Linked DNA regions of Homo sapiens. The protein of the gene in region 2 interacts with the protein of the main gene of each other region in a pairwise test. Each region holds a gene or a part of one and is shown on either strand. Other genes may lie near its edges. The genes, in order: TRIM37, UBE2U, RNF166, TRIM74, TRIM3, VPS41 and TRIM24.

The links.
Region 1: the proteins of UBE2U (region 2) and TRIM37 interact in a two-hybrid assay, tested with the Homo sapiens proteins (one large-scale study listed by BioGRID and IntAct).
Region 3: the proteins of UBE2U (region 2) and RNF166 interact in a two-hybrid assay, tested with the Homo sapiens proteins (one large-scale study listed by BioGRID and IntAct).
Region 4: the proteins of UBE2U (region 2) and TRIM74 interact in a two-hybrid assay, tested with the Homo sapiens proteins (one large-scale study listed by BioGRID and IntAct).
Region 5: the proteins of UBE2U (region 2) and TRIM3 interact in a two-hybrid assay, tested with the Homo sapiens proteins (one large-scale study listed by BioGRID and IntAct).
Region 6: the proteins of UBE2U (region 2) and VPS41 interact in a two-hybrid assay, tested with the Homo sapiens proteins (one large-scale study listed by BioGRID and IntAct).
Region 7: the proteins of UBE2U (region 2) and TRIM24 interact in a two-hybrid assay, tested with the Homo sapiens proteins (one large-scale study listed by BioGRID and IntAct).

What each region holds. Positions count from the first base shown.
Region 1 is NC_000017.11:59,047,881-59,051,380, forward strand, and holds part of TRIM37 (E3 ubiquitin-protein ligase TRIM37), read right to left. Parts: intron 3,449-3,500; coding exon 3,334-3,448; intron 1,514-3,333; coding exon 1,298-1,513; intron 1-1,297. UniProt on the Homo sapiens protein: E3 ubiquitin-protein ligase required to prevent centriole reduplication. Probably acts by ubiquitinating positive regulators of centriole reduplication.
Region 2 is NC_000001.11:64,206,623-64,210,122, reverse strand, and holds part of UBE2U (ubiquitin-conjugating enzyme E2 U), read right to left. Parts: intron 3,360-3,500; coding exon 3,267-3,359; intron 1-3,266. UniProt on the Homo sapiens protein: Catalyzes the covalent attachment of ubiquitin to other proteins.
Region 3 is NC_000016.10:88,699,909-88,703,408, forward strand, and holds part of RNF166 (E3 ubiquitin-protein ligase RNF166), read right to left. Parts: exon of another isoform or gene 2,882-3,500; intron 1,511-2,881; coding exon 1,354-1,510; intron 1,043-1,353; exon of another isoform or gene 1,033-1,042; coding exon of another isoform or gene 712-1,032; exon of another isoform or gene 1-711. UniProt on the Homo sapiens protein: E3 ubiquitin-protein ligase that promotes the ubiquitination of different substrates. In turn, participates in different biological processes including interferon production or autophagy.
Region 4 is NC_000007.14:72,966,667-72,970,808, reverse strand, and holds the start of TRIM74 (tripartite motif-containing protein 74), read left to right. Parts: upstream 1-1,342; 5' UTR 1,343-1,524; intron 1,525-3,855; exon of another isoform or gene 3,856-3,976; intron 3,977-4,142.
Region 5 is NC_000011.10:6,463,942-6,467,441, reverse strand, and holds part of TRIM3 (tripartite motif-containing protein 3), read left to right. Parts: intron 1-1,709; coding exon of another isoform or gene 1,710-1,746; coding exon 1,747-1,877; intron 1,878-3,500.
Region 6 is NC_000007.14:38,755,692-38,759,191, reverse strand, and holds part of VPS41 (vacuolar protein sorting-associated protein 41 homolog), read left to right. Parts: intron 1-710; coding exon 711-838; intron 839-2,209; coding exon 2,210-2,354; intron 2,355-3,500. UniProt on the Homo sapiens protein: Plays a role in vesicle-mediated protein trafficking to lysosomal compartments including the endocytic membrane transport and autophagic pathways. Acts as a component of the HOPS endosomal tethering complex.
Region 7 is NC_000007.14:138,575,259-138,578,758, reverse strand, and holds part of TRIM24 (transcription intermediary factor 1-alpha), read right to left. Parts: intron 2,387-3,500; coding exon 2,314-2,386; intron 1,340-2,313; coding exon 1,171-1,339; intron 1-1,170. UniProt on the Homo sapiens protein: Transcriptional coactivator that interacts with numerous nuclear receptors and coactivators and modulates the transcription of target genes.

The DNA.
Region 1 (3,500 bases), on a different chromosome or scaffold from region 2:
CATCCAGCCCATAAACCAAGCACCAAAGAATAATACAGTTTTCAAAAATCTATTTTCTGCTCCTGTGCCTCAGCTGCTGAGCCCTGTAGAGAAAAATCACACAACCACACTGACTGATATCATTTTACTAACTTATGCGTGCCGCCTTCAGCTGGGCCCTCAGTGTGACTGGAATCCTTCACATATTCCACATCAGCTTCCTCACAGAGTAACGTTTCAAACCATCACTCCTCAATTCTACCTAATTTTACCATTATCAAGGTCATTAATTAACACTGTCACCTATCTGCACAGAAAAAAAATACCCACTATTAAGCAAAAACTTCCCCAACTTTTCAGCTGCCTTACCTGCAAACTCCACCCTTCCTTTAACTCAGTTTATCAAAGGTTAACTGCTTCACCTGACTGCTCCATTCCAAACCCTATTATCTCTAGTTTATCAAAGCACTTAATCTGTGCATTCTCTCGACCCACTGGGTCCTTCATTTTAACTTAAAACTGAAGTCTCTCATCTTAAAAATTACTACAAAAAAACCAACTGTCTATGCATCCCTTCTTATGTAAAAATATCAACTACTTCTTGAACTCTTATTCTGGATTCTGACTGTTGTTTAGCTGGGATAGAACCTGGCTAGCTACCGAATCCTAAATCAGTCTACCTACGTAAGTAATGATAAGGCATGTACTAGTTTCAGTGAATGAAAATAGAACACCTTTTTTTTTTCTTTTTCTTTGAGACAGAGTCTTGCTCTGTCTCCCAGGCTGGAGTGCAGTGGCACAATCTTGGCTCACTGCAACCTCCGCCTCCTAGGTTCAAGTGATTCTCCTACCTCAGCCTCCCAAGTAGCTGGGATTACAGGCAAGCACCACCACACCCAGCTAATTTTTGTATTTTTCGTAGAGACAGGGTTTGGCCATGTTGGCCAGGATAGTCTCGAACTCCTGACCTCATGTGATCCACCCACCTTGGCCTCCCAAAGTGCTGGGATTACAGGTGTGAGCCACCGCACCCGGCCAGAACACATTTTTAAAATCCACAATGTATGGTAGTTTAGGTTTTAAAATGTGTATCACGGTTTGTTTTATACAATGTATTGTTTTTTTCACAACCTTGAAATGCTTTGATTCAACAACTTCTGACTTATTAACATTTACATAAGGGCATACATACATTACTAATGGAAATCAATGGACAATATTTTTAGCCTACTGTTTTAGCACATAATATGTTAAAAGCCATGATGCTACTGTTTTTTTTTAATCAAACACAAAAATCTAAAACTGGCCTCATTATTACATGATAATCTTCATTCTGAATCTTCTCCTCATCTTCTTCATCCTCTTTGGCCTCTCTTACAGAAGCTGTAGTAGGACCACCTTCGAGAAGCATGTCAGAGCATGCAGACTTCTTAGCTCGTGTCTCCAGAGCATCATCATTTTGGGGGCTAAGATGGTTATCTGGTGGTGACAAATCTCTTGACTTCTGAGTTCGAGACAGCTCAATAGTAAGTCTCTTTTAAAACAAGAAAAGCACAAATATTAGCCACAGCTCACTGGCACAGTAAAAGATGTCTCAAGTGAAAAAAAAATGCATCCAGATGTTTCTAAAACCATTGCTTTATTTATTTTTTGAGAATGGTCTCACTCTGTTGCCCAGGCTGAAGTGCAGTGGTGCCATCATAGCTCACTGCAAGCCTTGAACTACTGGGCTCAAACGATCCTACTGCCTCAGCCTCTCAAGTGGCTGGGACTGGAGGTGTGTGCCACCATGCTTGGCTAATTTCATTTTTATTTATTTTTAGAGACGGTATCTTGCTATGTTGCTCAAGCTGGTTTTGAACCCCTGGGCTCAAATGTTCCTCTGGCCTCGGCCTCCCAACATGCTGGGATTACAGGAATGAGCCACCTCACTTGGCACCATTTCTTAAACCATTTCTCTGAATCCCTACTGCCTTTTATTTATAAAAAAAAATTGATGACAAAGATAAACTGCCCCATTTATGCTCATCCTCCTTCTTTCATATCCAGCCTAAGCTAAACATACAATTAGCAAACAGTATAGTGAATACAGGCAGTTTTAAATAGCACATTTAACATGAAAATCTCTGAAAGCATGTATTTATTCACATTTTCCTCCCTGACCTATTAACGACTCTCAGCACTCCAAACCTCCTGCCACACCCTAACTTCCTAAGGGAAATGAAACATTCCTTAGTTTACCACTGTAAAATAAAAATTCATCAATTAATCTTCCCCAGTGCTCATTCAACAATAGTAAGAGTTCAAGATGGGACAACTTTTAATTGTGCTATAGCCTAGAATCCTCTAAATCCAAGATAACTTGTGGAAGAGAAACTAAGTCACTGACAGAAACACAAACAGCTTACCTCAAACTACAGCCACACTGTTCAAAACAACTTTATGCAATGATGGAAATGCTCTAGATTTGCAGTAACCAATGCAAGCACTTGAAATGTGGCTACTGCAACTAAGGAACTAAATTTTTAATTTTAATTAAGCTAAATTTACAGACCAGGCACAGTGGCTCACACCTGTAATCCCAGCACTTTGGGAGGCCAAGGCAGGCAGACTGCTTGAGCCCAGGAGTTCAAGACCAGCTTGGGCAACATGGAGAAACCCATCTCCACAAAAACAAAAACTAGCCATGACACATGCTCGTAGTCCCAGCTACCTGGGAGGCTAAGGTGGGAAGATCACCCGAGCTTGGGAAGTTGAAGCTGCAGTTAGTGGAAATTGTGCCTGGCAACAAGAGTGAGTCCGACCTGTCTCCAAAATAAAAAAAAATAAAAATAAAGTGGCAGGGCGTGGTGGCTCATGCCTGTAATCCCAGCACTTTGGGAGGCCGAGGTGGGCAGATCACGAGGTCAGGACATCGAGACCATCCTGGCTAACACTGTGAAACCCTGTCTCTACTAAAAATACAAAAAAATTAGCCCGGTGTGGTGGCAGGCGCCTGTAGTCCCAGCTACTCAGGAGGCTGAGGCAGGAGAATGGCGTGAACCCAGGAGGCGGAGCTTGCAGTGAGCCGAGATTGCACCACTGCACTCCAGCCTGGGCAACAGAGCGAGACTCCTTCTCAAAAAAAATAAATAAATAAAGTAAAATAAAAATTTACATGGCCGTATGTGGCTAGTGTCTACTAAACTGGACACTGCAGAACTGGTAAGGATGGGGAACAAGATAACTAGATTTTTTTTCTAATTACAAATTACAAAATTACAAATAGCAATAAAATATATAAAATCTAATTACAAATATAACAAGCCAAAAGGACAATAGGAAACACCAAAACAGAAATAGATATTTTCTTACCTCTTTAAGGTTGTTTATTTGTTGGATATAACTAGTCTGTGCAGCTTCCAACTGAGTAATGTACCAATGCTGGTCCCGGGATTTTTGAAAGAAAGTTGGTGAACGTACCTGAAACCTTAAAAGAATTGTGCCACATTAAAAAAAAAATTCAAATAGTAAAACATTAT
Region 2 (3,500 bases):
CAAAAGCCTCAAAGGACAAGATTAATAGATCTTAAATATAAATTTATTTTAAATCATAAAAATCTCTAAATCCCAGATGTGAAAAAACAGCATAAACAAAGTTGAAAATTAATGACAAATTAGAGGAAATATTTGCAACATCTAGGACAATGTGATAGCACTGTCAATTGTATCATACGAGTCACAAAATAAGAATCAACAAAGGTGGGAAATGTTTACTTCTCAAGTATTCAAAGAAGTGCTTATTAAAATAATAGCAAGACTCTTACCAAATTGGCAAAAAAATTTTCTTCAAAGTTTCAATGGCCAGAATTGGAAGGTGCTAAAATAAGAACTTTATATGTACTTTTTGGTAGGAGTACAAATACCACCGAAAGGCAATTTGGCTTTTTATATAAAGACTTAAAACTGTACATAGCCATCTTTTGCGGGGCGGGCGGGGGCGGGGGTTGAAAGCTAGTAAATAACCCTTCTCTCCCCTCAAGTTCATATGTAATTATAAAATAGATCAAAGTATTGAAAGGTGGAAGTAAAAACATCAGCTTCATTGCACATAAGACTGAAATGGAGAACGCACTTGATGAATGGCTTTAATCAGGCTCCACAAAAGTCCCCCTGATTTAAACTTAACTCCCAAACCGAAGGCCTGCCTAAGTTTCCTGCCTGGAGCAAAAGAGACTATACCCAGTATGGTCAGAAGGAGAGAGTGTTGAGCAAGTTCTGGGCCACATATGCTCAATTCTTTCCTTCATCTCCCTAATCAGATAAGTGACTTCTAGGAGGAGTGATGGGGGAAAAAAAAAGAGCAGTCACAAGTTTTCCTATACCTTCCCCCTCCTAGAGACTAAAGTTCCCTCTACTTTATGGAAGTGGGAGGGATGAGGACTAGGGGATAAGAGTACCTCCCCCCATTGAATTTAATCCAATAATTCTAACTATTTTAAACAAATAAAGGCACACGTATGTAATTAATTTTGTGTTATAGATACCAAAAATAGGTTTTAATTACAATAAAATAATGTACTTGGGAAAAAAACATAAAAAATCTAATGTAAAATATGAATGTTCCCCTGCCTACTAATTCTACTATTCAAGACCAATATTACCAGTTGGTCTATACAAATATACACACAAACACATATATGTATACACACCCATATGTGTGTGTTTATTAAATGGGAATATATTTTACATTTTATTGTTCAATGTATTTTTTCACTTAACAATGTATTTTCAACATATTTCTGGACACAAATATTTATTCAAAAAATATCTGAATACCTACTATATGCCACGCAGTGAAGATTCTAAGGATATAGCAATGATCTAGACCTAAAAGGTTCGTAGACCTTCCTCGTTCTGTTTAGAAGCAATACACGTAACTGTAGGATATTTCACTTAAAATTCCTGTGTTAATGGAGATTGAAGTTATTTCCATTTTTCCTATTTCTAACATTGCTGTTGGGAATAAACATCTTTTTTTTTTTTTTTTTTTTTTTTTTTTTTTTTTTTTTTTTTTGAGACAGCGTCTTGTTCTGTTGCCCAGGCTGGAGTGCAATGGCACAATCATGGCTCACTGCAGCCTCGACCTCCTGGGCTCAAGCAATCCTCCTACCTCAGACCTGAAGTAGCTGGGACTACAGGCACATGCTACCATGCCAAGCTAATTTTTTTATTTTCTGTAGAGACAGGTCTCACTATGTTGCCCAGGCTGGTGTCAAACTCCTGGACCCAAGCAATACTCCCCACTGACCACCCAAAGTACTGGGATAACAGGCATAAGCCACTGAGCCTGGTGGGAATAAACGTCTTTAAATATAACACACTCTTGCACACTTGTGCTAATATTTCTACAGAATAGTTTATAAACATGGTATTACGGGAATTTAGGGATATATGCATTTTATACCTGATTAGAAACTGTCACACTACTTCCTCAAAAGGTCATGATTATATCAGAGGAACAATGTCTGCCCATGCCTACTAAATATGTATGTTATATTTTGACATTTTATGAATATGTGATAAATAACAATACTTTTTGTTTTAATTTGCTTTTATTTTCTTAGTAGTGAGATTGATAATCTTTTTATGTTTATTTTTGTTGTTTATTCTGTCCAGTGTTTGTTTATAGCCTTTCTCCATTTTTTAATTGCTTTATGTTCTTTTTATATTGATTGACAAGTGTTCTTCATATGGTATACATATTCTGTTACATGCATTGCAAATATTTTCCCTCAGTTTGCAAAAGTCAGTGTCTTTGACCTCTGAGTATAATGTCCTGGGCCGTAGAGAAGTTTTAACAGGTTTTGCAGTTTAATGTGTCATATTTTCCATACAGTTACTGGGTTTTATCATGCTGAGAAACGTCTTCCTCACCAAGCCCATAAAAATTCTATTAGATTTCCTTCTTTTCCAGCATTTAAAATTTTTAGATTTTTGATCCTTCAGGAATTGGTTTTGTGTATAACTTTAAGTAGCAATCTAACTTACCTTTTATTTAAAAAAAGTTAATCTGTCCAGTGCATCGTTTTTTTATAATAATGAAAAATTAGATCCAACTAAAATATTGAACAATACAGAAATGGTTAAGTGTATTGTTGAACCATTTAAGATGATCTTTTGAAGACTGTTTAATAATGCAGAAAAAAGACATATAGTTTTAAAATTAAAAACCTAGGCCAGGCGCAGTGGTTCACAGCTGTAATCCCAGCATTTTGGGAGGCCAAAGTGGGCGGATGGTCAGGAGTTCAAGACCAGCTTGGCCAACATGGTGAAACCCCATCTCTGCTAAAAATACAAAAACTAGCCAGGTGTGGTGGCGCATGCCTGTAGTCCCAGCTACTGGGGAGGCTGAGGCAGGAGAATCGATTGAACCTGGGAGGTGAAGGTTGCAGTGAGCCGAGATCACACCACTGCATTCCAGCCTGGGCGACAGAGAGAGACTCTGTCTCAAAAAAAACACCATAAAATAAATAAAATCAAAAACCTAGAGGCAAAACTTCATGCATAATACCTCAACTGTATAGAAAAAATTCATACTTAGAAAAAAGGAAAATAAATTTGGCAAAATGTTGACAGTATTTTCTCTTTGCATTAGGATTTAAGGTGATTGCTAATTTTTTCCAGCCTTTTCATATTTTCCCCAATGAGAGTTCTTACTTTTAGAATCATAATAAAGTTCTTAAAAAGAAACATGATTATTATAAGAAACAAGGATAATAGGGACAAAGCCTCTAATGATAAAAATGTCATTTAGTTCTTACCATTTGGATGAAACGGAATTGTTATAAATTTCACAACTGGAGGAGCATAGTTGTACTCCGATGTAAAATGTATTGTCAGTTGGAAGACTAAACCTATAATATAGAAATAAACATTTTTACTAAAGTGTCATGTTTATTGATTAACTGTAACCTGATTAACACTGGAGTTTCTCCCTATGGTTTAGTCTTTCCACAGTTTTATTTTTAAGTAAATTGATTCATAGAGTGCACCGA
Region 3 (3,500 bases), on a different chromosome or scaffold from region 2:
CTACTCCATGGCCAAAAGCAAGTCACTGCAGGACAATCTGGCCGAGGGCAGAAACCTGGCTGGAGAAGGGTAGCGGGAAACAGGTAAGGAGATCTCTGGCGCCTGCAGGAGTTCAAATACTTGCTCCAGAAAAAGGAAGAGGCCAAGTGGAGGCCACTCAGAAATGCCCCAGGCTGGGGACAGACGCTTCGTGTGACTGAGGGGCAAGCTGGGGATGCTTCCGTGGAGGCAGGGCGCCATCCTCCACCCACAGCACACCCACTGTCCAGGGCAACAGGCTGCAAGATCGCAGGTGTCTGAGGCCCTCCTGGACTCAAGCTCGGCACCCAGCTCTGCCTAAGGGCTGCTGGACTCCGAGGGATGCACCACATTCCAGCAAGGTGCCGGGAGACACAGCCGCATCTGAAGACCCAGATTAGAGAACGGAGCTGCTGTGGGATACGGGAGGCCGCTCTGCATGTGACCGGTTCTGATCCTTTCTGGCTGCCCAGGAGAGAAGAACTCTGAGCAGGGAGAGACGGGAGGTGCCCAAGCACCCAAGACCACAGCCTGCTCAGCCGCACCACTCTGGAGTCCAGGGCAGCCCCTGGACATCTGGACCTTCGACCTCGAGGACAAACCACCGAGGGGCCACGTACTAGTGTGAGCGCTTCATAGAACTTATTCACCTGAGATGTGGCAACGTCGGGAAACGCAAATGCAAAATCACCTCTAGCTGCTCAGTCCTCCGGAAGCCACTGAAAGAACGGGGCGCTGGCTGGGGCCTCTCCACCCTGAAGCGGATGTGCCAGGGAGGGCCACGGGGCACGGGCCAGGCACCAGGACAGGATGGACATGGGGGCCAATGAGGCCCATGACAAGCTGCAGGCCCTTACGCTGCTCTGATGTGGGTGTGGCAGTGCCCATCAGCCCGGCTCTGGCCCTCCTGGCAGCTGGAGGGTGCTCGGCCCTTAGATGTCCTTGACTGTGCCCGCGGCCCTTGTGACCTTGGAGCCCCCAGCGCCGTCCCCGGTATCGGCTGGCAGGGGAAGGCTGCATTGGGAAGGTTTCAGCTCAGCCCCCTGGTCCTTACCCTGGCCACAACCCACGTGGGTTCCCCTGGCCCGGGCTAGGCGGCTCTGACAGTGCTACCCCCACCGGGCTGGCCCCCCCGTCAGCCGTCACCACAGGAAGTGAGAGATGAAGACGGGAGGGGAGGGAGGCGCCGGGGCTGGCTTCCTGGTGCAGGAGCAGAGACCGCGATTACTCAACAGGAAAGAGAGAGGGCCCCGGCCCCCACCCTCTGCAGAACCCGTGGGCTGAGGCTGCCCATCAAGTGACCCCGGCTCCAGGGCGGCCCAAGCAGGCGGGTACCTTTTTGTTGCAGCCTCGACAGGGCGCTTTGTAGGATGAGAGCTGCTTCTCCACGTGGGTGGCCTTGTCCACCTTCTTGGGGTCGAAGGGCAGGCGGCAGAGTGGGCACAGCGGGGATGGCACCTGCAGGCAGGGCTGGAGACACTCCCCGCAGAACCTGCAGGGCACAGGGGCCTGAGTGCCAGCCCGCCCCTCGGGTCTCCCGAACCGCAGGCCTTGCTCGGGGCCCTTCTTAGGACCCAGCATTTGTGGGGTCCACAGGGGCAGCTCCCCCTACCGCTGTCGCCGTCTCTGGAGATGGTCACTCCTATGTCCGGGGCCCACCAGCTGGATGGGCCCCATCTGGCTAAAGGGTGGCCCCGGTCCCTCCTGACAGTAGGCCCCTGTGGTTTCTGGCTAGCGGCAGAGCCGTCACTATGGCTGTCCCCGCGAGTGGGCCAGAGGAGCTCCCATAGGCAGGAGGCCCCAGCTCGGGCTACCAGGTTCACGTTCACGTGGCGACAACACCTGGGTGGGCTGTGGGGCGCAGGGACAGCCCGGGGACTCTGGAAACTCTCCCGGCTCCACACTCTGGGGGATAAAACCTCAAACAATCGTGGGAAAGGAAACGGCCAGGCCCCAGGGGCTCCAGATGCACTGGACAGGGAAGGGCCAAAGCTAGCCAAGTGGCAGCACATCCTGAGGCTGGGTGGCAGTCACCAGGCTTGGGACAGCTTCGCAGGCAGGAGGGGGTCCTGCTCCATCTGGGCGGAGGCTCGGGTCCTGGGCACCCATGGGCCCTGGCTCTTGGCACTGCCCCTGGGGACACCACATCGTGAGGACAGACTGAGCGTCCCACAGCCCCGTGCGCACTCCGGGCTCCAGCAGCAGGGGCTTCCTTGGGCTCGCACACCCTCCCGCTCTGCAGACGCACACAGCCCTTGGAGGGGTGCACCACCAGCCAGTGGGAGCACCAGGCGCGAGAGCCCCCAGTGCAAACACAGAGAAGGAGCTTAATACTGGGGCAGCCACATCTGGCCTTGTGAGGAGCACTGTGGGGACAGCTGAGCTGCGGCGAGGAGCTGGAACTGAGGCAGAGCCCCCCAGTCCCAGGAAGGCTACAGCACCCGGGGGTGTAGCTTCCCTTCTCCCTGGCAAGGCCACAGGGCTGGTACAGGAGCCCCACTGGACAGAGGGGCTGTGGGCAGGCCCTGGGTTCACAAACGACTCAGCTGAATTCAGGGCCAGAGTCCTCTTTGCTGTCAAGAGATTTCCACATCCCTCAAGAAAAGGCCCTTTCTGCAAGGAGGAAGTCTGAGGGCCTCAGGCAAAGGTGGCCAAGCAGGCATCTTAAGTCCCTCCTGCTGTCCCCCAGGCCCTCTTTGCCACCACTGGATTCCCACAGAGCCACCACCTGGCTGGTGGCTCCCACATGAAACTTCGTGTGAGAGAAAGCGGGACTCAGCTTGAGACCCGTCAGAAAGTGAACAAGCCTTTTTCTGCAGAGTAAAGAGGTCGCTCACTTTACCCACCTCACCCGAGTTCTCACCAGGCGCCCCAGCAGATATTTCCAGGGTCATCCCTGGCACTGACCCCTGGATTTGAGCCGGGGGGGCCGCCTACTTCACCCGTTCACGGGAGGAAGGTGCTGGCAAGATGGTCCACCTGGGGAGGCCTCAGGGGACCCCCATACTCAGGCACTCATGGCAGGAGAAGCGGAAGCAGCTCAGGTGCCCGTCGGTAAACGGATGAAGAGACGGCGTGGCGTGCACACCCATGGAAAGGGCGTTCGGCCGGGAAGAGGCGTGCAGCCCCACCACGCACCGGAAGGCCTGGAAAACAGTGCAGGGCAGACAGCAAGCACGTCCCACCCGTGTCGTGGGGGTCCACTCACGCTCAACGTCCAGCAGAGAGAAACCCAGTGACCAGAAAGCAGACGGGTGGGTGCCAGGCGAGGGGGAGAGTCCTGGGTTTCTTTCTGGAGTGGGAAGAATCTTCTAGAATTGCATCGATTGTTGCATAATTGCAAACACACTGGAAACGACTGGATGGTGCACCTCCTGAGTGAACCCTGAGCTGCCAGAGACCAGGCCGGGGCTCGGCTGCACAGCACGGCCACGGGCTGAGGGGAAGGAAAAGGGTCCCAGGCAGAGCTTGGGAAGAGAGGA
Region 4 (4,142 bases), on a different chromosome or scaffold from region 2:
AGCCGAGGAGTTTTCCTAAAGTAATTAGAATCGAAGGGTCTGTCCAAGTGTTCCAGGTATCCATACTATTTCACTAGAATAGAGGAAAGAATGTAAGGAAAATGGACCCAAAACACCCACGCCTCCATAATATCGAGTCTCTCATGATCACACAGAAACAATGCGATCAGATGAGCTTAAGCTGCCCGACACCACGAGGTACAGGAATAAATCTCTCTGCATTTTAGGAGCCTGCCCTTCGGCTCAGAGGTTCAAGAGCTTCATGGAAGCATCACGCAAAGGGGACATAGGGGTCCTTAGCTTTCCTCTTAAAAAAACTAATTCATGGCAGAAGCAGCGGCTCACGCTTGTAATCCCAGCTACTGGGGAGGCTGAGGTGGGAGGATCACTTGGGACCAGGAGTCTGAGACCAGCCTGGGCAACATAGAAAGTGCCCCATCTCTACAAAAATATTAAAAATTAGCCGGGCATGGTGGATTGCGCCTGTAAATCTCTTATTTGGGAGGCTGAGGCTGGAGAATCACTTGAGCCCAGGAAGCAGAGGCTGCAGTGAGCTATGTTCGCACCACTGCACTCCAGCCTGGGGAACTGAGCGAGACCCCGTTTCAAAAACAAAAATCCACTTCAAACAAAGCATTTCCAACCCCATTAAATGCTTTTTGAAAATGAGGCCTCTCTCTTCCCAACAGAGTGCGATGACATGGATCCTGCGGACAAACCGCCCCAGGGCGTACCTAGCACCGAAGCATCAGGCGCCACTAGGTCTCCAGCTCCTTCTCGGATGACGTCCTTCAGCACGCCCCGGTCCCCCGAGATGTCCAGCATCCTCTGACTTAACCGCTCGTACAGGGACTGATGGAGAATGAAAGCCAGGCCTCAGAGCCGCAGACCCACCCGGCCACCCCTCAGCGTCTACGCCCCCACGTCTGGGCCCTCACCTGGCCGGGGGCGTCGTCCCCTTCCAGGACTCCCTGGTTTAACGCGCTTCCCCCCATGTCCTAGCTGCCCTCCCTGTGGCGTGAGCCTTCGGCCTGGTGCGCCCCGCTGCCCTTCCTGGCTGTGACTCTGGTGGGGTTCCGAAGGCCCCTTTATGCCCGGCAGACCCCTACCGACGGCGGCATTCCATTCTGGGGCCACGAGGAGGCACTCATCGTTTCGTTCCAACCGCCGCCAACGGCCCTGGCCCTCGCGAGCTCTGGAACTACAGAGGTCGCACGGTGAGTTGCCAGGTGTGGCCCGTAATCGGAGCGCACAAAACATGATGGGACACGTAACGGGACCACACAGGGCACATTGGGCACTTGCAGGGGCGCGAGGTGGCGGCACGTAATGGGAGCGCGCTGAGCATGATGGGGCATGTGCGGGAGCGCCAGGCGGGGCATGTAACCAGAGCGTGCGGGGCATGATGGGGCACGGACATGGGGGGTTAGGTGGGGCACGTAATTGGAGCTCGCGGGGCAGGATGGGGCATCTAACTGGAGCGACAGAGAGCACGATGGGGCACTTACAGGGGCCGGAGGCTGGGTACGTAATGAGAGCGAGCGGGAAATGATGGGGCACCTAACGAGCACGCAGAGCATGATGGGGCACGGGTGCGAGGTGGGGCGCACAGTGGGAGCGCGTGGGGCATGATGGGACACATGGCGAGGCCGTCAGGGCACAGGGGAAGCACTTTTGGAACACGTGAGTGACAGGGCTGCCGCCCTTGAAGGAGCCCTCGGAGTGGCTGCGTGGTGGGGCACGTGGGGCAGGTTCAGGAAAAAGGATGCAGCATGTGATTGCAGGGCAACCTGGTGAGGACACGAGAGCCACCTGCCACCAGCAGGGTTCAGGGCTCCCAGCTGTGGGTTACTTCCACCTTCTTTCACTTTCCCTCTTCCATTGTATTCTAGAGAATTTAGGCCCAGACAAGACACTGATTGATTGATTGATTGATCGATTGACAGAGGCTCGCTCTGAGCCCAGGCTGGAGTTCAGTGATGGATCTCAGCTCACTGCAGCCGCCACCTCCTGGGCTCAAGAGATCCTCCTGCCTCGGCCTCCCAAGTAGCTGGGATTACAGACGTGCACCACCAGGCCCAGCTAATTTATTTTTTAGTTTTTAATTTGCTGGTAAGATGGTTTGTAGCTTTGTTGCCTAGGCTGGTCTTGAACTCCTGGCTTCAAGCGATCCTCCAGTCTTGACCTCCCAAAGTGCTGGGATTATAGGCGTAGGCTACAGCCAACTTTCAATACTGCCCCATTGGGGGTTACGTTTCCAACACATGAAATTAGGAGGATACATTCAAACCACAGCAGTATATTATGACCATAATATTCATTAACTGTGTAACAGGCTGGGCGCGGTGGCTCACACCTGTAATCCCAGCACTTTGGGAGACCAGAGTGGGTAGATCACTCGAGGTCAGGAGTTTGAGACCAGCCTGGCCCACATGATGAAACCGCCTCTCTACTAAAAATACAAAAAATTAGCCGGTGTGGTGGCAGGCGCCTGTAACCTCAGCTACTTGGGAGGCTGAGGCAGGAGAATCACTTGAATCCGGGAGGTGGAGGTGGCAGTGAGCCTGATTGCACCACTGCACTCCAGCCTGGGCAACAAGAGCAAAACTCTGTCTCAATAAACAAACAAACAAACAAAACCTGTATAACAGAGTGTCATTGAATTTCTAAACGTTGAAAGACTTCACATTAAAAAAAAACTCACAATTTAATATTATTGAGTGAAAGAAACCAGACACAAAAGGGTACATTCTATATGATGCTGTTTATGTGACATTCAAAAACAGGCCACATGACAACATGGTAATAAGGACAGTGGCTGTCCTTGTTAGGAGTTATGACTGGAAGGAGGCAGGAGGGAGCTTTCTGGAAACACTGTACATCTTGCTCTTGAGAGTGCACGTATATACATCAAGTGTTTATCAAGCTGTGTGGTTAAGATTTGCACACTTGTATATGTTATACCTCGATTTAAAAAATCTAAATAAGTAAATAAAGATACCTTCAAATCTTTAAAAAAAAAAAAAAAAAGAGGCCAGGTTCGGCGGCTCACACCTGTAATCCCAGCACTTTGGGAGGCTGAGGTAGGAGGATTGCTTGAGGCCAGGAGTTCAAAACCAGCCCAGGCAACAAAGTGAGACCCCTGTCTCTACTAAAGTAAATAAAACAATAAAATAAAAAAAAAAATTCGAGAGATCGAACCATCATCTGCCAGTTTGTATTAGAAAAAAAGAGAGAGAGAAGGAAGACTGCGTGCAATAAGGCTCATGCCTGTAATCCCAGCACTTTGGGAGGCCAAGGTGGGAGGATTGCTTGAGCCCAGAAGTTGAAGACCAGCCTGGGCAACAAAGCAAGACCCGGTATCTACAAAAAAAATTTTAAAAATTAGCTTGGCATGGTGGCACGTGCCTGTAGTCCCAGCTACTCAGGCAGCTAAGGTAGGAGGATGGCTTGAGCCTAGGAGTTGGAGGCTGCAGTGAGCTGTGACCACGCCACTGCACTCCAGCCTGGGCAACAGAGCAAGACACTGTCTTCCCCTGCCCCCCAGCCCCCCACCCCCCCCAAAAAAGGATATAAGAGCAAGAGATTGAGATTCAGAAAGAACTGTTTCCCAGCACCTGTCTGCTCCTGTCGGGGTCGTGAGGTGTGGACAGTGTGCCTAGTCCCTCTGTTTCTGCCCCTCCTCCACAGTGGCCAAGGCCAGCACTTGAATGTTATCAGAGCAGGCCCAACAAAGGCTGCCTCCCCAGTCCTGTGATGTAACCCAGTTTCCACCTGATTCTGGTGACCTTGGGGACACAGGGGTGTTGCTGGGGAAGGGGAGGAGAGAAGGGGCAGAGACCAGGCAGTGGTGCAGGCGTCCAGCTGCACTTCCCACTTCTGACTCTGTGCCTGCTGTTCCCTGCTGGGAAGAAGAAAAGCCAGTGATGCTGGCTTGAGGCCATAGTGGGAGGCCCAGTGGATCCTGAGAAGCTAGGTATTCCAATGTCGGGCTCTCGCTGGGGGCTTCTGGTGCTTCTTCTGTCTCACTGACAAGCTTTCATAGGGGAGCAGGTGGGAGATCAGGGTAGAGGCCTTGTAGGTTCCAGGCTCTCTAGAATTACCTGGGAGTGTCACCTATAAGTGTAGAGTTCTGGGTCTCA
Region 5 (3,500 bases), on a different chromosome or scaffold from region 2:
TCATCTCTACCTATCTTCCCAAACTCACCTCTTCCTTTTATTGACTTGGCTCCAACCACACAGTCCTTTCAGGTTCTCCATGAGCCTTCTGCCTAAGAACCTTTATCATGCTGTTTCTTCAGCCTAGAATGATTTCCCTTCCTGACTCCCTGTTGTTTCTCACCCTCACCCATACCATTTTTCTCCCATCCACCCAGAATTCTGCTTAAAAGTTACCTCCTTGGAGAGCCTTCCCTGATGACTCAATCAAAAGTGTTCTTTCTCACAGCATCCCTTTTTTCTTTATATCACTTCCCTGCCACTATTATTTACTTTTAAAATATCTGCCACCACCTCCCCACCACAGGGACAGTGACCCTGTCTGTTTTATCATTCCATTCCTAACACCTGTACAAAGTAGGCAGTAAATATTTATTGAATTCCTGAAATCAATTCAGTAAATATAGATCAATCTTTATGTCAGGCTCTGTGCTAAGTGCTAAGAATGAAAACATAAAATAAAATATAAATAAATAAATAAAATGCCTATCCTCAATAACACTGCATGGAGTGGAGAAAGCAGAGAAGTAACAAGAACATTACAGCATAGCTTATAAGAGTTAGGATGGAGTAAATACAGGGTGCTGAGGGACACAGAGGTAGAGCACCCAAGCCAGACTCTGGGTAGTCATGGAAGGTCTTCTAAAGGAGGTGACATTTATATGGGGACCTGAAAGATGAGTAGGTGTCACATCAGCCAGGAAAAGGGGCCAGGAAAAGGATCCCAGGACAGAGAGAACGAATGCCTGATCTCCCAGAAGCAAAAGAGAACAAGGAATTTTCCAGGAACTGGAAAAAAAAAAAAAAAACCCAGCAGGAATGATTGATCATAGACTTATGAGACATGAGGTTGTAGAAAAGGTATGGGGCAAAGTTAAGCCTCACTGGTCAATATAAGGACTTTGGACAATGGATAACATTTGAAGGAATTTAAACAGAGTACTGACAAGATCAAATCTGTGTTTTAGAAAATTCATTCTGGCTTCAAGGAAGATAAATGAAAAGGTGTCAGTGAGGAGACAAGAACACCAGTTAAGAGGCTATTGCTGTATTCCAGGAGAGAACAGATGGTTGCCTGAATTAGGGGTAGTAACTGTGGGATTGGAGAGAAGGGTTTAAGATATTCAGGAAGCAATCCCGACCTTGATACTAACTGGGTGTGAAAAAGAGTGCAGTTTCAGGCAGTTGTGCTAAGAGGTGGGTCAGGGTATAAATGGAAGAGCTGCAGGTAGTTAGAGGAGAGACACTCCATTCAGGTCTCTTGGAGGAGGATTTGGGGGAGGTAGAGGAGATGAAGGGTAGGTATGTCAGTGAAAATGGACATCTCTGTACCATGCACTCAACAGGCACTATGTCACACTCTCAAATTATTATTCCTGTAATTACAAATTAAGAGACTGAGGCTCAGAGAAGTTACATGGATTGTCCAAGCTCACATAGCTGGTGAGAGACTGAGCCAGGTTTGAAACCCAATCTAATCCTACGTCTGTGCTCTTAAACAGAACACCAGGCTCAGAGGTCACATCACCCTGATCCTTCCAGTCACTGCCCTGTCTTGCCCCTAGCAGGGAAGAGGTGGGGGCAAGTTCTCTGCAGGGGATTTGAGTGGCGGGGATTGGGTGGGGAGAAGAAGTTCTGGACTCCCTGGTGCTGACCATCTCTCCATACAGAGGCTGGTGTGAGTGGCGGGAGCCATCTGTGGGCGCCATGGCAAAGAGGGAGGACAGCCCTGGCCCAGAGGTCCAGCCAATGGACAAGCAGTTCCTGGTATGCAGCATCTGCCTGGATCGGTACCAGTGCCCCAAGGTTCTTCCTTGCCTGCACACCTTCTGTGAGAGGTGAGGGGATGTGTGTACTGGGGAGGGATGAGGACCCTGTGGGGAGGATGAGGATCCTCCTCCCCTGTGGGGAGGGTGAGGGAGCATGTGTAAACCTGTAGTAGGTGAGGCAACATGCTTACCTGGGAGGAGAGCAGGTGAACCCCAACCTGCAGGAAATGAGGTTTTGAGGGCAAGAACCTGTGAGAGAACCATAAGAACCATAACACTGGGCCATGGTTCCTGTCAAGAATAGGGCCTTCTCTGTCCTTTCCCAAACCTCAAGGCAGCTTTTGACACCACCTAAGAAATCAAACAGTGCTCAGACTCAACCAGCTTTGGCATCAGCAATTTATGACTAGTTGGAGGATATTTGAAGTTAGGTCTGTCCTTCCCTGCTTGTCCTTGTTGTCCTCAGGTACTGAGTGAAAGGCAACCTGTCCCAGCCTCTAGGCTTCTATGGATCACTTATTCATTTAACAAATATTCATTTATTGAGCAACTACTATGTGCCAGACCCTGTTCTAGGCATTGGGTATGCAGTGATGAGCAAAAACAGATAAGATCCTTACTCTTTTTTTTTTTTTTTTTTTTTTTTTGAGATGGAGTCTCGCTCTGTTGCCCAAGGTGGAGTGTAGTGGCACGATCTCGGCTCACTGCAACCTCTGCCTCCCAGGTTCAACCAATTCTCCTGCCTCAGCCTCCGGAGTAGCTGGGACTACAGGCGCACGCCGCCACGCCCAGCTAACTTTTTGTATTTTATTACAGATGGGGTTTCACCGTGTTGCTCAGGCTGTTCTTGAACTCCTGAACTCAGGCAATCCGCCTACCTCGGCCTCCCAAAGTGCTGGGATTACAGGCGTGAGCTACCGTGCTTACTCTTTTTAAAAACTGATACACAATAGTTTACATATTTATGGGGAACATGTGATACATTGTTACACAAGCATAGAATGGGTAACAATCAAGTAGGGTATTTAAGGTATCCATCACTTACAATGCTTACTCTTAAAGAGCTAACAGTATAGTGAAAGAGAAAGATAGTCATCAAATAATCATATAGCCAGATTATAGATAAATATAACTTTTAGTAAGTGCTGCAAATAAAGTGCTGAGCTATGAGAGATTGGCATATGGAATCTGTTATAGTTTGGAGAATCAGGGAAGGTTTCCCTGAGGAGCAATTCAGAGGATGAATAGGAGTTAACTAGGTAAAGGGGGTTGGAAGAGCATTCTGCACAGAAGAAAGACCATTGGAAAAGCTCATGTGACATGAGAAAATATGTCAGGTAAGAGGCCTGGAGGAAGCCTGGTAGGGCTAGAGCAGAGTGAGTGTGACTGAGAGTATTATGGGATGAAGCTGGAGAGGTAGGTGGAGGCCAGACCACCTAGGGCTTTGTAGACCTGTTAGGGAATTTCACCTTTACCCTGAGAGCCACATGAAGCCTTTGCAGGGTTTTATATGTGATCACATCTGTATTTTGACAATATTCTCTTGGGCCCTTATCTCTCATTGTTCTGTCTTGGGTGGCCTGGTCCCTAGGTCTTCTCACCACCACTGCCTCTATCCGCACTTTTCCTCTGCCTTCTGCCCCAACGGAAACCTGGCTCTGCACCAGAGATACTGCTTCCCTGCCAGCCCTG
Region 6 (3,500 bases), on a different chromosome or scaffold from region 2:
AAGACTGCCCCCACTTCAGACATACCAATCACAAGTTATAGGCTGTCACCTGTACTTCCGACTGGTCAACTATAAACTGGAATTCCCACTACCACCTCCTTAGATTTGACTCATTTGCTAGAGCAGCTCATAGAACTCAGGGGAACACTTTACTTACATTTACTGGTTTATTATAAAGAATATTGCAAAGGATACAGATGAACAGCCAAATGGATTAGATGCAGAGGGCAAGGTATGTGGGAAGAGGCATGGAGCTTCCAGGTCCTCTTTGGGTGCACCACCCTCCAGGAACCTCCAGGTGTTCAGCTCTTGGGGAGCCCTCCAAAGCCACTCCTTTTGGGTTTTAATGAAAGCTTCATTACTTAGACATGATTGATTTAAACACTGGGCCATTGGTGATCGGTGTAACCTTCAGCCCCTCTCCCCTCCTTGGAGGTTGTGGGGCAGGGGTGGGGGTAGGGCTGAAAAGTTCCAACCCTTTAATCCTGTCTCAGTCTATCCTGTGCCCAACCCCATCCTTAAGTTACCTAGGGGCTGCTAGCCACCAGTCAGCTCATTAGCATACAAGAAGACACATCATTTTAGAGATTCTAAGGATTTTGAGAGTTATATGCCAGGAAACAGAAGGAGGACCAAATGTATATTTCACAATATCACAACTATTATTCTGTTGAATGAGTGTTCTTTTTCTGTTTTTCACCTTTGGTTAGGGTTTTGCCACATTGATCCGAGAATGGCCTGGAGATCTGTATAATAATTCAGTCATAGTTCAAGCAGTTCGGGATCATTTGAAGAAAGATAGTCAGAACAAGACTTTACTTAAAACCCTGGCAGAATTGTGAGTATACTTAAGTGTTTCTTTTTCCATATCAGTCTGTGTTGAAAAGTTTTTCATACTTTAGATTTGGCAAACTCCAAGTGGAGAAGATGTATTTTATACCATTTTCCTACATTCCTTCTTAGTAAAAACCTCTCATAAACCTCAAATGAGTAGGCGATAAGGACATGTGTGAAACTGTACAATTGCAATGTAATCTGTTTCCCAGAGAAGAGAACCCCTAACGCACAGCGCTTGGGAGAGGCAGTGGTTAGGAAACAAAAGGGTGCCAAGTTTTAGATCACTCAAGCATAACAGTTTCCCAATGAGCAAGGCTCTGGATTCTGCTCTTCTAGGGTCTTCAAGTCAGTTAATTTAATCTCTCAAATGTCAATTCCTTATGGGAAAATTTTAAACTTTAAAAGAGATGTCATAATAGAGGACTCCCTGACCCTGAGTCAGGGCTCAGAAAATGGCAGCTTGGTTAATATTTTTCATATTTCTTGGGCACATTCAGTGATGCAGGCTTTGTGCGAGACGCTTATGATACAGAGATAGATAAGATATGCTCTCAAGTACTTCGATCTAGGGAAACAAGAAGTATACTGCAGGTCTAGCCAAGACGACCATCCCTGCATCCACCTCTCCTCAGTGCCCCCATCACCTCAGGCCACTCCTCTCCCTTGTTTTTTCTTCTTTTGCCCAAAACCAAAAAAGGTATACCAAAATGACCTAGAACTCTGGACGTGTTGGATTTTCCACAAGAGGAGGTTGTGTTTATGGCATTCTAAGTTGAAATGCTAATCATTTTCTCTTGGAAACGTTGTCCTGTTAGATACCCCTTAGAGTCTGCAGCACGTTCGTAATGGACCAACAGTACAGCTTCAGTTCAGTGAGCTCTCAAGAGCTGACTTAGGGACTTAATGTGAAAAACATTGTTTCAATGGAAAAACACATTTCAGTTAGACACAGCCCCCTTAAAATCAGCTTTTGGAATATTAGCCATTTGTCAGCTGAATACTGCTTGTAAGAATTGGAACGGATGTTTCTGTTACTAAAATGAGAACTTCATCCTGGATCCTAGTTTCTTTGCTGTATGGATGTTTGTAAAACTTTTGAGACTGAGACCCCCAATAAAGACCATTTTTATTACTTGAATATTGTGAATTTTCTTAAATTTTGGCAACATGAGAGGCAAAGTTCTGAGAAAGAAATACTTATTGGTCGTGTATAGTTAAATCCTATTCAAAAATAGGAATATTTTTTGAAATAAAGTTAACTTTTCTCTCTAAAGGAGTGTTTCCATTTTTAATATTGTGAACCATGATCTCTCTGTGTGTGTTTTAATTAGAACTGTTGATGAATATTAATGTAAAAAATTTGTATTACCAGGTACACCTATGACAAGAACTATGGCAATGCTCTGGAAATATACTTAACATTAAGACATAAAGACGTTTTTCAGTTGATCCACAAGCATAATCTTTTCAGTTCTATCAAGGATAAAATTGTTTTATTAATGGATTTTGATTCAGAGGTAATGTGCTTTTTATTTTAGTACTGTCAATTATTTTTACTATTCCAAATATTTAATACTTAGATATCTATCCAAATGCTGGATTGGTGAATGAATCACATAACTTGGCTTTATGCCGACAATCTTTAGAACACTCTGACCCTCGCTAGATGTTGTTATTCTAGTTGTTTGGCATTCAGGAATCCTTTTCATAATGTAGTTATTCTGTGAAAGCAATTCAAAGTTGATAGAGAACTTTTAAAGTTGTGTGTGTGCGCATATAAAGTAATTTCTTGCTAAAACAATTCATATAATTTATAGAAACAAACCACGTATATACTTTGACTCATTTATCCCTCCTAACCTGTTTTCCAGAATTTTAAAATTAAGTGAACTTCCATCTTGACCGACTTATTACTATTTTATTTCTTGGTGTTCACGTATCCAGCATGTGGGGTTTCCCCTGGTTTGAGGTGATGCTCATGTCCAGGACATGTGGAATGTTATTTTATTGTGTGACAAATTTGAATAACCTAATAATAAATTTACGCCCCCTAATGAGTGGACCCAGCCACAGCTCACATTGGTGCTTGCAAAGTGATGCAAGCTGTGTGTGTGTGTGTGTGTGTGTGTGTGTGTGTGTGTAAAAGAAATCTAATTACAAGTGCTCATGACAGAAATAATGAGGTTTATAAAACAGTGTTCTTATTCAAAAAATTGAAATTTTAGATAAACCTAAAAGTAGAACCCTAAAGGCTCCAAAAGGATTAATGCATTTTTCAATTATATTGTACTGTATTTAGAGATATTGTGTGCTATATTAATCTCCACCAACTTAAACTTAATTTAGATAGGAGCTAGAGCTACGTCTTTTTCTCAAAGATGCTTTAGCCCTTTTTAAAATACTGAGTCAAGTCTTTAGGGACTACAGATTTACGAAGAATTACGTAGCTCCAAGGAAGTTCAGGTAGAGAGGCTCTGCTTGTCTGGCAGAGGATGAGATGCTTATGTAAAAATTAATTACATTTTCCTCATATCTAGTCTCCCCTCATGCACCCCCTTCCATTGTTCTCCAGAGCTCGTTTTGCATATGTTCCTGTGGAAAAAAGATGAATGAGCTGAAACTAATTGCTATTCTAGAATGTGATCCAGATGTAAGGAATCAGA
Region 7 (3,500 bases), on a different chromosome or scaffold from region 2:
GTTAAAAGCACTTATTCCTTGGAAGAACTATTTTCAAACCTAGCTTTTTCTTCTGCTGTTTACCTCCATATTTCTAAATAAAATGATTGTTAAAAATTGCAATACATCTATAATCCTTACTAGTGAAGATCAGGAGATTAGGTTTTTACATTCTGATTCTCCAACCCCGTCCTGCTTCCATTCGTGCGTGCGCGCACACACACACACACACACACACACACACACAAAACCACCACCACCACCATTCACCCCATCCCTTTAACTTAGTTTTGATTAAGCATTGATTGTTTTAGTTGGTAGGTACTGGTATAACTGTTTATTGCCAGTATCTATTCTAACTGATCAGTATTTGTCTTGTACTGGTTAAGTATTCTGAAAATCACAATTTTTGGTTAAGTGCATATTCAGGTTATATCCTGATTGCATCACAGTTTTTAGTTACATTCGTACTCAGGTGTTTGTTTACATCATTATTATTATTATTTAAATATTGTTCACTGCAGACCCACAAAATGTACTAAGACATTTTTTGTACAACTTTTTGTTTTTACTAAGACTCTGTAATTACCTTATATTTTCAGTTGCTTATCTTTCTAGGTACCTATTTCTATGTTATTCTCACAATCTCCAACAGGAGATTCTCAATACTGTTGAAGCATTTTTCTCCCTTGGGAGTCCTATGTCTTCCTGCTACAGACTACTGCACAAGCTGCTGCTGCTGCTGTACTGGGGGTTGCCTTTTTCTTCTGTGTCAGATTCCATTTTTGGAATCTTATGTCTTCTTTCTTGTTTTACTATATTTTTGATGATTCATATTATCAAGTATCTTCCTGAGAATGAGTACATAAGAATTATTTTGAGAACTTGCACGAAAATGTTTAGTTAATCTTCAAGTCAATCTGATTGATAATTTGCCTGGGTATAAAACTCTGATTAAAGAAAGAATATCTCCTTTTAACTGCCCAGCCTCCATATCTGAGCCTCTGATTTTTAAAAACTTTCCTGTTTTTCCATCTTTGTCTTTTTGTTTAATTTACTGAGAGATTCCCTCAAATTGTCTTTAAATCCTTTTAAATATAACATTAAAAAAAAACTCCTAAGAGCTATTTAAAAGATTCTCTCACCCTACCCACCATGCATAGGAATAGCATTGCAAGCATTCATAATTACATTTTGAGGCCTAGATTCTTCATCTGATTCTTGCTTCACTATAACAACAGGGAAATCATAATTTTCCGGTGGTCCACTGTTTTCTTGTTTTATTCGAATTGGCTCCAGCATGACCACTGGGACTTTGTGTGTAGAGTCAGCTCCTGCTGGTTTGCTGGAAGAGCCAGAGCTGTAAGTATGAGAGAGAAGAAAAAGCAATCTAAGAATGTTAAGCTAAATACCTCATAAAAAGTATAACAACAACTTTCTAAAATACTGTATCTTCACAACAATAAGTATGTTAACATCAGCAATTAATGATGCATAACAAATGAAACTGGTGTATGCAAGTTTCATTTATGATAAAAATGTTTTACATATTAACCTATCTAAATAGTTATATATCTAGAAAGATGTTTCAATAAACCTAAACTTTTAAAAACCTGAGGCTTTACAATTAGGCAACCAGATTTAGTATCTTAGAACTGGCATCTGATTTTAGGCTTTCTCATTTCCTTCTCTAGTCAGTAGCAAAGTGAATACTTTGGTGAAGACAATGAAATAATCATGTATTTACACAATACTATTTAAAGAAGGTAGTGGGTCAAAAAGCTTTTACAGAGATTCACTATGTTCTCATGGGATTAAAGGCAAACTTTTCTCCCTCAGACAATTCTTCCATATGATAAAGTAAGAACTGGGTTCACTAGCTAGGAGGAATTTTCAGGCATAATGCAGGGAAGAGGAGAGCAGTTGCTTAAAATATAGAATTTCAATAACTGTATATTTATTTTAAAGTAGAATCAACATTTAGTCATTAGAGATCAAATTAGCATAAAATTTTATCTTTTCTCTAAATTTGTGTTTCTATATAGTGTACTGTGTTATGCCTATTCATTTTTATGTTTTCTTTGCTATTATATGAATATCCAACATTTCTTATTTTCAACATATTGACAAATATTCTTCTATCTTCAAAGGTAAATTTGTACTTTTGTTAATCCCTTAACTAATTCATTAAAATATATAGTAGTTATTAAAATTTTAATTAAAAATAAAGGAAATTGTTCAAAATATATTGAGTATCAAAACATGTTGAACACTGGCAAAAGAAATCTAATTAGAGATTTTTATATACTAGAAAATATGGTTTAGTCAGTTTACCTTCCTCGGCTTCCAACGCTGGAGGCACTAGGTGAACGTATTGGGGGGTGTACACTAGTCATAGTAACAGGTCCTGAGGAGGGGGAAACCATACATTCATAAAACGAATGAATAATTATGCATTGAAGTCCTGTTGAATGTGTTCACTTAGCACTACATTGAAACTGGGAACCATGATGAAATTCTATGAAACAGTAAGTAGTTGCTGAATTTTCAGCAGTCTGTTACAGCCTGTTACACCGGCAGGGTTTTTCAGCCTCTGCACTATTGACTTTTGGGCCAGATAATTCCTTGTTGTGGAGGAATGTCTCTGCATTTCAGGATGTTTAGCAACATCCCTGGCCTCCACCAATTATTAGATACCAGTGGCATCTCTCTATACTTCCCAGCTTGGGGTGTGACAATCAAAAACATCTCCAAACATTGCCAAGTCTTTCTGTGTTAGAGTAACAGGGGTAAGATCTCAGTGAGACCCTAGTGCCAGTGGAAGCTACAGAAGACAACGAAAGGTGGTACGGGCTGATAGAAAAGGAGTTCAAAAAAGAAAACCAAGTAAACAAAATTAAACCAACTAATGGAAGACACAGAAAGATCAATGGGTTCAGACTTAAGGCAATAAACAAAAGAGGGATTCTGGACTACTGCCCTAAAAAGATTAAGAAGCTATGCTCTGGTGGTAGTGTAGACTGGAACAAGGAAGATCTAATTAAAAGCAGCCAAGAAAGAAGGAAAACTGTTGCAAATAATTGATTTGAACTGATGAAGGCCCAAACTAAACAGTAACAAGTAGGAATACAATGAAAGTGGGAAGTAGAAAAAAAATTCCGAATTGACAGAAGTTCTAAAAGGTTTGATGAACAACAGGATGTGGCTGATAAAATGAAGATTATCATTTCATTGGTTTGTAAACTCTGGAGAATTTAATTTAAAAATAAAAGGCCTGGACAACAAAGACCCGTCTCTAACCAAAAAAAAAAAAAAAAAAATTAGCCAGGCCTGGTGGCACCTACCTGTAGTCCCCACTACTGGGAAGGCTAAAGCAGGAGGATCACTAGAGCCCAAGCGTATGAGGCTGCAGTGAACCATGATTGCTACACCCTGGGCAACAGAGTGAGACCCTGCCTCAAAATCAATCAAAACAATGGCTATTTATAATCTCCTGATAATATAAGAATACATGCTTCATT